Homo sapiens: one gene and its partners. The protein of the gene in region 3 purifies or fractionates together with the protein of the main gene of each other region. This does not show direct contact. Each region holds a gene or a part of one and is shown on either strand. Other genes may lie near its edges.

What was found.
Region 1: the proteins of RHEX (region 3) and NOS1AP purify together in Homo sapiens (affinity purification with mass spectrometry; 2 studies listed by BioGRID and IntAct, with this or other methods). This does not show direct contact.
Region 2: the proteins of RHEX (region 3) and ATP13A1 purify together in Homo sapiens (affinity purification with mass spectrometry; one large-scale study listed by BioGRID and IntAct). This does not show direct contact.

What each region holds. Positions count from the first base shown.
Region 1 is NC_000001.11:162,359,681-162,363,331, reverse strand, and holds part of NOS1AP (carboxyl-terminal PDZ ligand of neuronal nitric oxide synthase protein), read right to left. Parts: intron 350-3,651; exon of another isoform or gene 1-349. UniProt on the Homo sapiens protein: Adapter protein involved in neuronal nitric-oxide (NO) synthesis regulation via its association with nNOS/NOS1. The complex formed with NOS1 and synapsins is necessary for specific NO and synapsin functions at a presynaptic level.
Region 2 is NC_000019.10:19,653,537-19,657,187, forward strand, and holds part of ATP13A1 (endoplasmic reticulum transmembrane helix translocase), read right to left. Parts: intron 3,614-3,651; coding exon 3,458-3,613; intron 3,381-3,457; coding exon 3,311-3,380; intron 3,231-3,310; coding exon 3,124-3,230; intron 2,648-3,123; coding exon 2,518-2,647; intron 2,398-2,517; coding exon 2,342-2,397; intron 2,119-2,341; coding exon 1,992-2,118; intron 1,918-1,991; coding exon 1,780-1,917; intron 1,704-1,779; coding exon 1,583-1,703; intron 1,165-1,582; coding exon 1,007-1,164; intron 609-1,006; coding exon 433-608; intron 359-432; coding exon 248-358; intron 1-247. UniProt on the Homo sapiens protein: Endoplasmic reticulum translocase required to remove mitochondrial transmembrane proteins mistargeted to the endoplasmic reticulum.
Region 3 is NC_000001.11:206,098,067-206,100,605, reverse strand, and holds part of RHEX (regulator of hemoglobinization and erythroid cell expansion protein), read right to left. Parts: intron 2,526-2,539; coding exon 2,425-2,525; intron 952-2,424; coding exon 808-951; intron 1-807. UniProt on the Homo sapiens protein: Acts as a signaling transduction factor of the EPO-EPOR signaling pathway promoting erythroid cell differentiation.

The DNA of each region.
Region 1 (3,651 bases), about 44 Mb from region 3:
GGTGTTCATTGGTATCCCTTATAATATCCTTTAAAATAAACCAGTAAATGTAGGTGTTTTCCTGAGTTCTGTCAGTTGCTCTAGCAAATCAGTTGAGTCCAAGGAGAGGGTAGTGGGAACACCAATTTATAGCCACTTGGTCAGAGGTGTAGGTGACAAACTATTACTTGTGATTGGTGTCTGAAATGGGGGAAAGTCTTGTGGGATTGAGCCCTCAAACTGTGGGATCTGATGCTGTTTCCAGGTAGATAGTATCAGAATCAAACTGAGTTAGAGGACACTGTGTGCCCTCTGCAGAACTGCTTGCTTGCTTGGTGTGTGGGAAAAAGCCCCATACATTTGGTCATAGAAGTATGTTGTGACAGTATAGCAGGAAGAAACTGAGTTTGTTTCTTCCTATATCCACTCAACAGGGAAAGAAATGTCAATAATATTGTAATCTGGATGTCAGATGGTGGGTGGCTATTAAGGTTTTCTCCTCTTTGGAAAGGGAGGCATGGAGAAATTTCAGCTGGGGGTCCCCCAAATCTATTTGGTTCTAAGGAACAGGACAACTGCTATGGGAAGCCCACAGATAAGCCTCAGAGAAGGGTAAGCTTAATCTTGCACTTATGAGTACCGTTACTTATCCCAACAAAGAGTGGCATCGAAAGGAACCTACTGAGCAAATAAAATTACTAAATTATTCATCTTCCATTTTCTTTGGAACCAAACCAACCAGAGAGAAATGTGGAACAAAGTCTTTCAGCAGATATAAACAAAGAAAGTAGAGAATCCTGCATACCTCTAACTGGCACTTATTGAGGGCTCTCTGCACACATACTGCAGAGTCAGTTTCTTTTCTTTTCTTTTCTTTCTTTCTTTTTTCTTCTTTTTTTTTTTTTTTTGAGACTCACTCTGTCACCCAGGCTGGAGTGCAGTGGAATGATCTCAGCTCACTGCAACCTCTCCCTCCTGGGTTCAAGCGATTCTCCTGCCTCATCCTCCCAAACAGCTGGAATTACTGGCGCCCGCCACCACACCTAGCTAATTTTTGTATTTTTAGTAGAGACGGGGTTTCCCCATGTTGGCCGGGCTGGTCTCAAACTCCTGACCTCAAGTGATCCACCTGCCTCGGCCTCCCAAAGTGCTGGGACTACAGGTGTGAGCCACCATGCCCAGCCCAGAGTCAGTTTCCTGCTTTCCAGTCTGAACATCCCAACAGGACAGGCCATTTGAATGCACCAGACCAGGAGCTGGAGTGCTTGTCTGTTGGGTACTCCCTAGGCAGTTGTAGACAACTCACTTCTCTCTGGACCTCAGTTTCTCCATCTGTCAACCGAGAGGACTGGCTTGAGGCTGAGACAGTTGATAATTCTACATCCAGGTTGACATTGTGGTCAGTACTGGAGGCAATTTGTTAATGGCTCATTGAAGAAAACTCTCAGTTCCCCATTGTGAAGTCAGAATTAGAATTGAGGGTGAAGGAAAAGTCCCCTCTTACAGAAGCCAGGAAAAAAATTGAAAGCTTTTTTTGCAGGTACCCAAGTTCAATGGTGGAGTACCAGCAATACCTAGAAGAAGACCTTTGACTCAAATGCTTCCCATCGCAGATCCATTGGCACCAAGTGCCATGAGAAAATGCTCCTTGTACCAGATTAAATAAGAGTTTTACCTCTGTAAACCCAGTTACACTATTTCAGGTATTTTCAAGTCCTGTGAATATGTGAGCACCCACTGCTGCTACTGCCTGAGCCAGCACTAATGAGCCCTCTGCTTCTGCAGCTGTCAAAAGTGGTACTGGGCATAAGGCTCAAACCTCAAGCTGTGGCAGGCTGTGCTGCAGGAGAACCCAAACCAGGCCATACTGAGACAAAATAGCCTGGACTTCTTTTAACTTTGAGGTGCAGCATTTTATAACTATGTAGGCTCGAACTTGAAGCACTGAAACGAGGCAGCGTTACGTGAAACCTTGGTTTGGGCAGTCTGCTACAGCCCTCTGTGCTTTGTTTCCCCATTCATACAACAGGGGCAGAGAGCACCACCTCCTCCCCACCAGATGGGATTTTTTTTTTGTATTTAGCATGCTTTTCTTTCAAAGAATTAAGCCCCTTTTGTAAAAGTAGACCATATTTCTTTCTGGAAAGGTACAAATTAGTGTCTCCTTTGCAGAACTGTGTTGTCTTTGGCAATGAATGTTGTACTTACATACTAAGTCAGTGATGTGGCACAGAGTGATGTGACACTACGGCCACGTCCCGAGTGCCAGGGCTCAGATGTCCAGCTCTGCACTCTGGCCTCATCATGACACACAAAAGTTCAGCCCTGCACCCTCCAGCTCTACACTGCTTTCCCAAACTCTGAAACCCACCCTCAACCCACCCAGCCACACCAGACCATTGGCGCCCTCACTCTCCAGCTTACTTGCCTGGACTCCAGCTCCTCCATCAGAAGTGAGGGCAGGGCCAGGCTGAAGTTAGGGAGTAGCAGGCACATGGAAATGGCAGTGGAGAGAACCAGAGCAATTTGCCCCACCACACACTGGACACAGAAGCAGAGGCAGGCGCCGCTGTCTCAGCATGCACATGGCAGGGACTTGGGCAGTGCATGCCAGCGTGCTGGGGACTGGGAGAAGCCACAGGGACATATGCTAAATAGAGGGCCTGGGGTGGGGATGCGGAGTTTTGTTAGCACTGTTCCTCTAACTACAGCATACATGATTGCGAAGCATAAATAACCAATTCCTTGTTCCTGAACAAACAGAAGTGGCAGCAGGTAGAGGAGAAATCTTTAAATAGCAATACTGAACTGTACTAACACTTTCCTCAGGAAAAAGGCTGGGAATTGGCAAACTGTGAATAGACCTGGCCTACTTAACACTTGCCAATCAGCCACAGTGCCCAGATCAGTTCTGAGACTATGTCGGCCCAGCCCATGGCCATGCAGGTGCCAGCTACATCCCAGCTTCGCTTCGAGGCTTAGCTATACTCTCATTCACACCCTTGAACTTCTGGTCCACCTAAAAGCAGGAAGCTAGTGCAGCCAGGCAAGCCTCATGCTGGGTCGGAAGAGCGGTCAGAGGGACTTGGGTATTCACTACTTACCCACTGAGGTCTAACCCGGAAATACTTAAGAGTTGGTTGAATACCACCTTTGCCCATATACCTTTAAGGTCAGGGCGGGCCCCTTTGAGACCAGCTCAGAACCAATTTAGGGTGAGGCTGGGAGAGGTCTTGCGGTCTTAGACCAAATCAGGACACTGTGAAGGAAACCTAAGCCTGGTCCCCATGGCAACAGCAGAACTAGACTAGTCTGTGGGAAGAAATGGGGGTGGTGGGGGGGGGACGACATAAATAGTGCAACAAGTGACATCAAGGGTACACTTGTCTGCAAGAAACTGTCTTTATCCTTAGATTTTTATCCAGGAACAACATAGGAGGATTTGGATGCTCTCCGAGAGAAGGAAACTATTCCCACCTGAAAGGCTGAGGTCATAGTTTTACTCACTGGAATTCTGGGGACTGCTGGTAGTTTAATAAAGACAGACAGAAGCCTTGCAGTTTGGTGGCAATAGAGTCTGACAGAACAAGTAAGAGCTGACCTCGTGCTGGAAACTGAAATCAGCCCCCCCCCGCGTAGAGAAACCAAGCTTGCTATACTTGGTCTATTTCA
Region 2 (3,651 bases), on a different chromosome or scaffold from region 3:
TAGGGACACACCAGGACTGGGGCAGGTAAGCCCTGCGTGTGCTCTGCGTGAGCCAGGACTGGGTGGGTCCCCACAGCAGTGGACAGACTGAGTGCCATTTGGAGTCTCCAAAGGTAGAAGCTGGAGGCGGGGCAAGGAGGACAAAATCACAACCATTCAACCTGGCACTGTGGGACACAGGAGGTGACTCAGGGAGGAGCTGACGGGCCAGGCACATGGTGAAGGCAGGGGGAGCCTGGGCCCGTACCTGCTGGTGAGTGAGGTGTCCCAGCTCCTTGTACCCCAGCGCCAGGACGCGGGCTCCTTCCCGGGAGATCTCGGTGTGGATGTGGTGGTAGTCGGGCGGGCACTGGGAGAACTGCAGGGAATGCAGGGGGATGTCACGGGCTGCCCCGCGCCCCCACCCCTTGCCCCAGGCTGGGGCCAGCTCACCATGGAGTGCAGAGTTTCGGGGGCCCCCTTCACGGCCGCGATGTAGCAGAGGTCGGTGGAGCCCAGCTTCTCATACGAGGCAAGCACGGACATTCGCTTCAGGGCACTGGCAAAATGAAAGCGCTGGTGAATTTTCAGCCCCTGAGTTTTAATACTTCGGGGGAATACTTTCTCATCTGGAAACAAATAAGTACGAGTCCTGAGGGGCTTTGCTCCAAAGAGGCAGCCAAGCCCCTACCTCTCACCCCGGCCTCCCCCACCTCCCTCCTGCCTCCCCCAGGGCCTGATCGGGGCTCTGGGCTAGAGCAGGTGTTGGTCCAGAGCTGGAAGACCTGGGCTTGGAGGACCCTGGCACTGTGGCTTCGGCCAGGGCAGGGCAGATTCCAACCCAGAGGGACACCCAAGGACGTGGCCTATCCTGGGTCTAAAGTGAGCCTCTGGCCACCCACCTCGGGGAGCATCAGAGCTGTAGGCCTGCCTGTCCCCAAGATGCTCTGAGGGGTGCAGCCCACCTGCCTAGGGCTGTGAGAGCCAGTGGCTCCCCCTTGCTGGGCCTGAGGCCCCAGCCCCTCACCTTTGGTCAGCGTCCAGTCCACGGCCGTCAGCATGGCCTTCTCTAGAGGGTCACCCACGAGGGTGCCGTCGTCCAGCTGCATGAGCGAGTGGCACGAGGCCAGGGCCCGGTGTGTTTCTACAGGGATGCTGGACACTGGGGTCACCTCCTTCCCGTCTCTGCAAGGTCGGGGAACAGCTGGTTACAGAGTGCAGGCGGGTAGGGCGAAGCTGCATCCCCACCAGCAGAAGGACCCCCAAGGCCATTCATTCCGTGCTTGTCACTGGGGTGGCTTGGGCGCCAACTGGGTCTTTATGAGACCTGCACCTGCTTCACAGATGCCCCCAGAAGCCAGGCATTGTGCCTGGGGGTCATGTGGTGCATGGCTGGTGTGGGATGTTCCAGGCCTGAGCTGAGCCCCCGTGCCGCTACCATGGCTGACACCCAGGACTTTGTGGGGAGCCCCTGGAAATGAACCCGAGGCAGGGCCTCTGACGGGCCCTCACTGCAAGGGCTTGGGGTGGATGGGCCACCTGTCTCTCGACTTCCCAGAAACCCCATCTGGGTGACCTTTGCTGCAGGGCCCCTGATGCTTACCTCAGCCCGGCCACACCGCGCACCACCAGGCTGTCACTGGTCAACGTCCCCGTCTTGTCAAAGCAGCACACCTCGACCTTGCCAGCAAAGGGGATCCGGAAGGGCTCTGTGCAGTACATGTCTAGGGGCGGGAGTGAGGTCAGGGGTCCTGCTTGGCCCCAGCCCACTCGGCACCCCATCCCATTTGACACACTCACAGAGCTTGGCCAGGGCGATGAGGGAGGTGTTGACGGCCAGGGACAGCTCGATGGGCAGCTCAGGAGGCACGACCGAGGTGAGGATCAGGGTGCACTCCAGAAACAGCTTGTAGCGGTTCCGGCTGGGGTCCTTGGTACCTGTGGAGACAGGGCCTGCCAACCTGGAGCCTCGGAGGGTGGGCGCAGGGGACCACAGAGGCCGTGGCGCTTACCTTCAATCCATACATAGGCAGCTGCAGCGATGGCAAACACCAGGAGGAAGAGGATGAAGATGAAGGTCTCCAGGTTGTTCGCAGTCACCCTCTTGACCCCGAAGAGGATGGTGCGCAGCAGCTTGCCCTGGAGGAATGGAGGAACAGCCTTTCTGCTGTCTGGACTCCCTCCAGCAGCTCAGGCCTGGAAGCGTGGGCCTGGTCTTGGGGTGGCCTCTGCACCCTGGCCCAGGTCCAGGGCCGTGCTGCCAGAGTCAGCCCGTGGGGCAGATGTTCTGGGGTCGGAAAGGGCTGATACCTTGGCTGTCCAACTGCCCTGGGGCCCGCCCTCCCCAGACCTGGCCCCGCACCTGGGATGTGTTGAATCCGGTCCGCAGGACGTAGGCCACGCACCCGCTGTCAACCGCTGGGGAGAGAAGCAGAGTCACCGTCATGCCTGTCTCCTCGTCCTGACTCCCTCATGATCAAGCAGACGGGCAAAGGGGGTGGAAGCCCAGATACCCCCAGACGCCCATGAGGCACCTACGCTTCAGGCCCGTGGTGGCTTTCTGTGGGGGGATGTGCTGCACCACCTTGGTGCCCCCGAAGATGACGTGCAGCCGGGAATCAGCCTGGAGGTCCAGCACCCGGTCTGGGCTGAGGTCTTCGATGGGCTCCTGGGGAGGAAGATCGTGAATCTGGATGGCCAGGCCTACCTTGCTTCCTTCTCCATCTGAGTTCCTGGACAGCTGGACCTTGAGGCTGGAATGAGCCAGGGGGATCCCCACCCGACCAATACATCCCACCCAGCTCCCAGATCCTCACCCTCACCCCGTCCTGTCTTCTCCCCATTGCACTCACAGTGCCTGCTCTCTGGGGCCTGCACTTGGCCTCGTCTGGGACTCACCCCTCTGGACTGCTCCCAGCCCACCTTGGTCTGACATCCCAGGGCACCAATGTACCCTGGATGCCCTTGGCTCTCTCACCTCCTTCCTCGCCCCCACCACCCGGCTCCCCAGTCCACAGAGCTCATCTGTGCCCACACTGCCTCCTCCGCCTGTGCCTGAGGGGGATCCCCGCCACCCCCTGGGCCTCCACCTCCTGGCCTGTTTCCTCCTGAACAGCTTGAGGATCCCCATCCTCCACCAAGTACCTTCATCTGTGGCACGGACTCCCCCGTGAGCATGGCCTCGTCTACGATGCAGCGGCCTCGCAGCAGAAGCACGTCACATGGCACCAGGTTCTCCTGTGGGGAGCGGCCTGCAGGGCAGAGGCAGGAGGGTTGGCCAGAGGCCCTGAGGCTGGGGCTCCCACTGGGACTGAGCGGAACCCGGCCTCACCGATGGAGACGATGTCCCCTGGTACGATCTCATCACTGGCAATGGGCCTCCACTTGCGGCTTCGGTAGACCTGGGCGGGGCATGGGTGTCAGCACAGAAGCCGCACCTGTGCTGCACCCCCAACCTGGGTCTCCCTGGCAGCCACACCTGGATCATGTGGGGCTTGTTGCCCATCTTCCGGATCTCCGACATGTTCCGCATCTGCTGCTGCACCAGCGAGGCCTCGAACGCCACCAGCATGGATAGCGTAAAGACGCTGTAGTACCAGTACTCATCCAGGCACCAGAGCCCCACACAGAACACCTGTGGGATACCAGCCTGTCTGTCCTTGCCCTACCCGC
Region 3 (2,539 bases):
GATTCTAGCCAGGCTCTGGTGAAGCTTTGGGGCCAGGGGTTAGGGTAAGGCCAGTGCCTCTCCAGTTCTGTTGAAACATGCATATGAGCAGCACCCTCAGGTCCCCACAGGCAGGCACTGAGGCCATGTCTCAACTGAAAAGATAAAATCAGGACAGAGCAAATTCAAACCAATCAAGAGACAAACCAGTGGAAGAAGTGCAATCTCTGGTGAGTGAGCCCCTATCAGGGAGTTGCCTTGTTGCCAAAGCAGCCACTTCCACTGTGAATAGTGACCTATTGGCTCACTTGCAGGAGGGTGATATAGATTTGAACCAGCAGCAAGATTCACATTTATACACTCAGATACCCATGCAGATCTAAGACCATGAAAAAGGGTCCCTCTAGGGACTATGGAGGAGCCAGCTACAGAGCCAGCCAATAACACTGACATAGCAGCAGCCACGGTGGAGGCAGGCAGAGGCAGGTGAAATTTTAACTCCACCATTAGCTGATCAATCCGAAGAAAAGATGCCATGGCTTTACAAAGAGAAGAGCAGGGACATTTCCCAAGCCGCCTGCAATCATTTGCACACGACTAAACCCGGGAAAGAACTTAGACCCACACAAACTCAGAATGATCTTCCCCACGAAATAGAATAAAACACCTTTCTGAAAAAAAGTAGGCTGGCAAGGCTGTCCTGATGTGGCTGTGAGGAATCCTCAGGCTAGAGGTTTGGGCCCATGGGGTTGCTGCAGGGAGGTCCTGGGTGTCCAGAGAGAGCAAAGTTAGTCCCTAGACAAGTTCTCCCTCCAACCCCTTACTCACGCCTGTAAAGGGAATCAGACATTGGGATGTCTCTCTCTGTCTGAGTCTCCTTCATCTCTTTGACAGCAGGTGGATGATGGTGGCCAGGGCTGGGCCTGGGAACCTGGAGACTGGCCGCTTTCAGTATCTGTTCACTCTTGTGGGCTGGAAGGGAGAGGGCAGGGATCAAAAGTGGAAACTGGCCAGGCGCAGTAGCTCATGCCTGTAATCCCAGCAATTTGGGAGGCTGAGGTAAATGGATCACTTGAGGTCACAAGTTCGAGACCAGCCTGGTCAACATGGTGAAACCCCATCTCTACTAAAAATACAAAAATTAGTTGGGCATGATGATGCGTGCCGGTAATGTCAGATACTAGGGAGGCTGAGGCAAGAGAACTGCTTGAACCTGGGAGGCAGAGGTTGCAGCGAGCCGAGACTGTGCCACTGCACTCAAGCCTGGGGGACAGAGTGAGACTCCATCTCAAAAAAAAAAAAAAGTGGAAGCTGCCTGGGTTAGGCACATCGGCTCTTGAATCAGCGCCTGTTGAACACTGCCCTCAGTAAAGCAAACCTTTCAGAAAGATCCCTTCAAACCTCAGCACTGCTGTGCTCAAAACCCTGCCATGGTTCCACGCCTCACTTGGAAAAAGCCAAGTCCCAGCCTCCGAGGCCTCACTCCTCCTTCCTCTCTGGCTTTCTCCTGCTTCTCTCTGCCTGCTCCAGCTGCCCAGCCTCTTTGCTCTTGCTAGCATGTGCCTAACACGTTCCTCCTTCAGGCCTTTGCAGGTAGAGTTCACGCCTCACTCCCTGCAAGTTTATACTCAAAGGTTAGCCTTTTGGGGATGCCAGCCATCCACCAAGCTGTATCAACTCCCTTGTTCCATTTTTCCTCCCTAGCACTTACCATAATCTAGCATATACATGTTTTACTTGTTTATCTTGTTTGTTGTCACATGGAATGAAAGATTCCGGGGGTAGGAATTTTTGTTTTGTTCCCTGTTGTGTAGCCTAGGCCCAGAGAGTGTCTTAGATGCTCAAGAAATATCTGCTGAATGAATGAATGAACAAATGAATGAATGAAGGTAGACTTAACTAGAAAGACCCTCAAAACATCATCTTGCCCCGTCCTTTCTCTTAGCACAACCAAAGCAGCATTGTTTTATTTTCCCTAATTGAAATGCCTTTCCAGGACCGAGCTTCACTACCTTCTATTGTTTATCAGTTCAAGAATTTAAACTAATCTCTAAGTCCAACCATATTTCCTTCTGTTGTAATTCAAGGACATTTCTTCATATTCAGTCCTTTAACAGGGATGAAGAAAATTAATTAGACCAGGTTACACGAGCACTTCCTCGTAGGCATTGCAAAAGCTGTGTCTAGGCAGAAGGTCTGGGTAGTAGACGGATGTGGATGGCCACTTCCAGCCAGAAATAGTTGGTTAAAAGGTGAGGTCAGAGTGGGGATTACCCAGATACAGTTATTGGGGGGAGGGGGAGCGGTGGGAAGGAATTTGGCCGGTGGGTCCTCTGGTAGGTTTTTGAGTGACGTTTGGGAACTCCAAAGGGGTCTTGTCCTGCTGGAGGCTCGAGAATGGTCTCTGAGAGTGACTAGGAGGGAAGAGGATGCTGAGCCAGTTACCCATGTGCCTGCTGAGCAGGTAGTTGATGGCGGTGAGGAAGCAGGCCTGCAGGAAGAGGGACACCACCGCGATCACTAAGCCATGCCAGACCTCCATGACTCTGTTGGGAAAGAA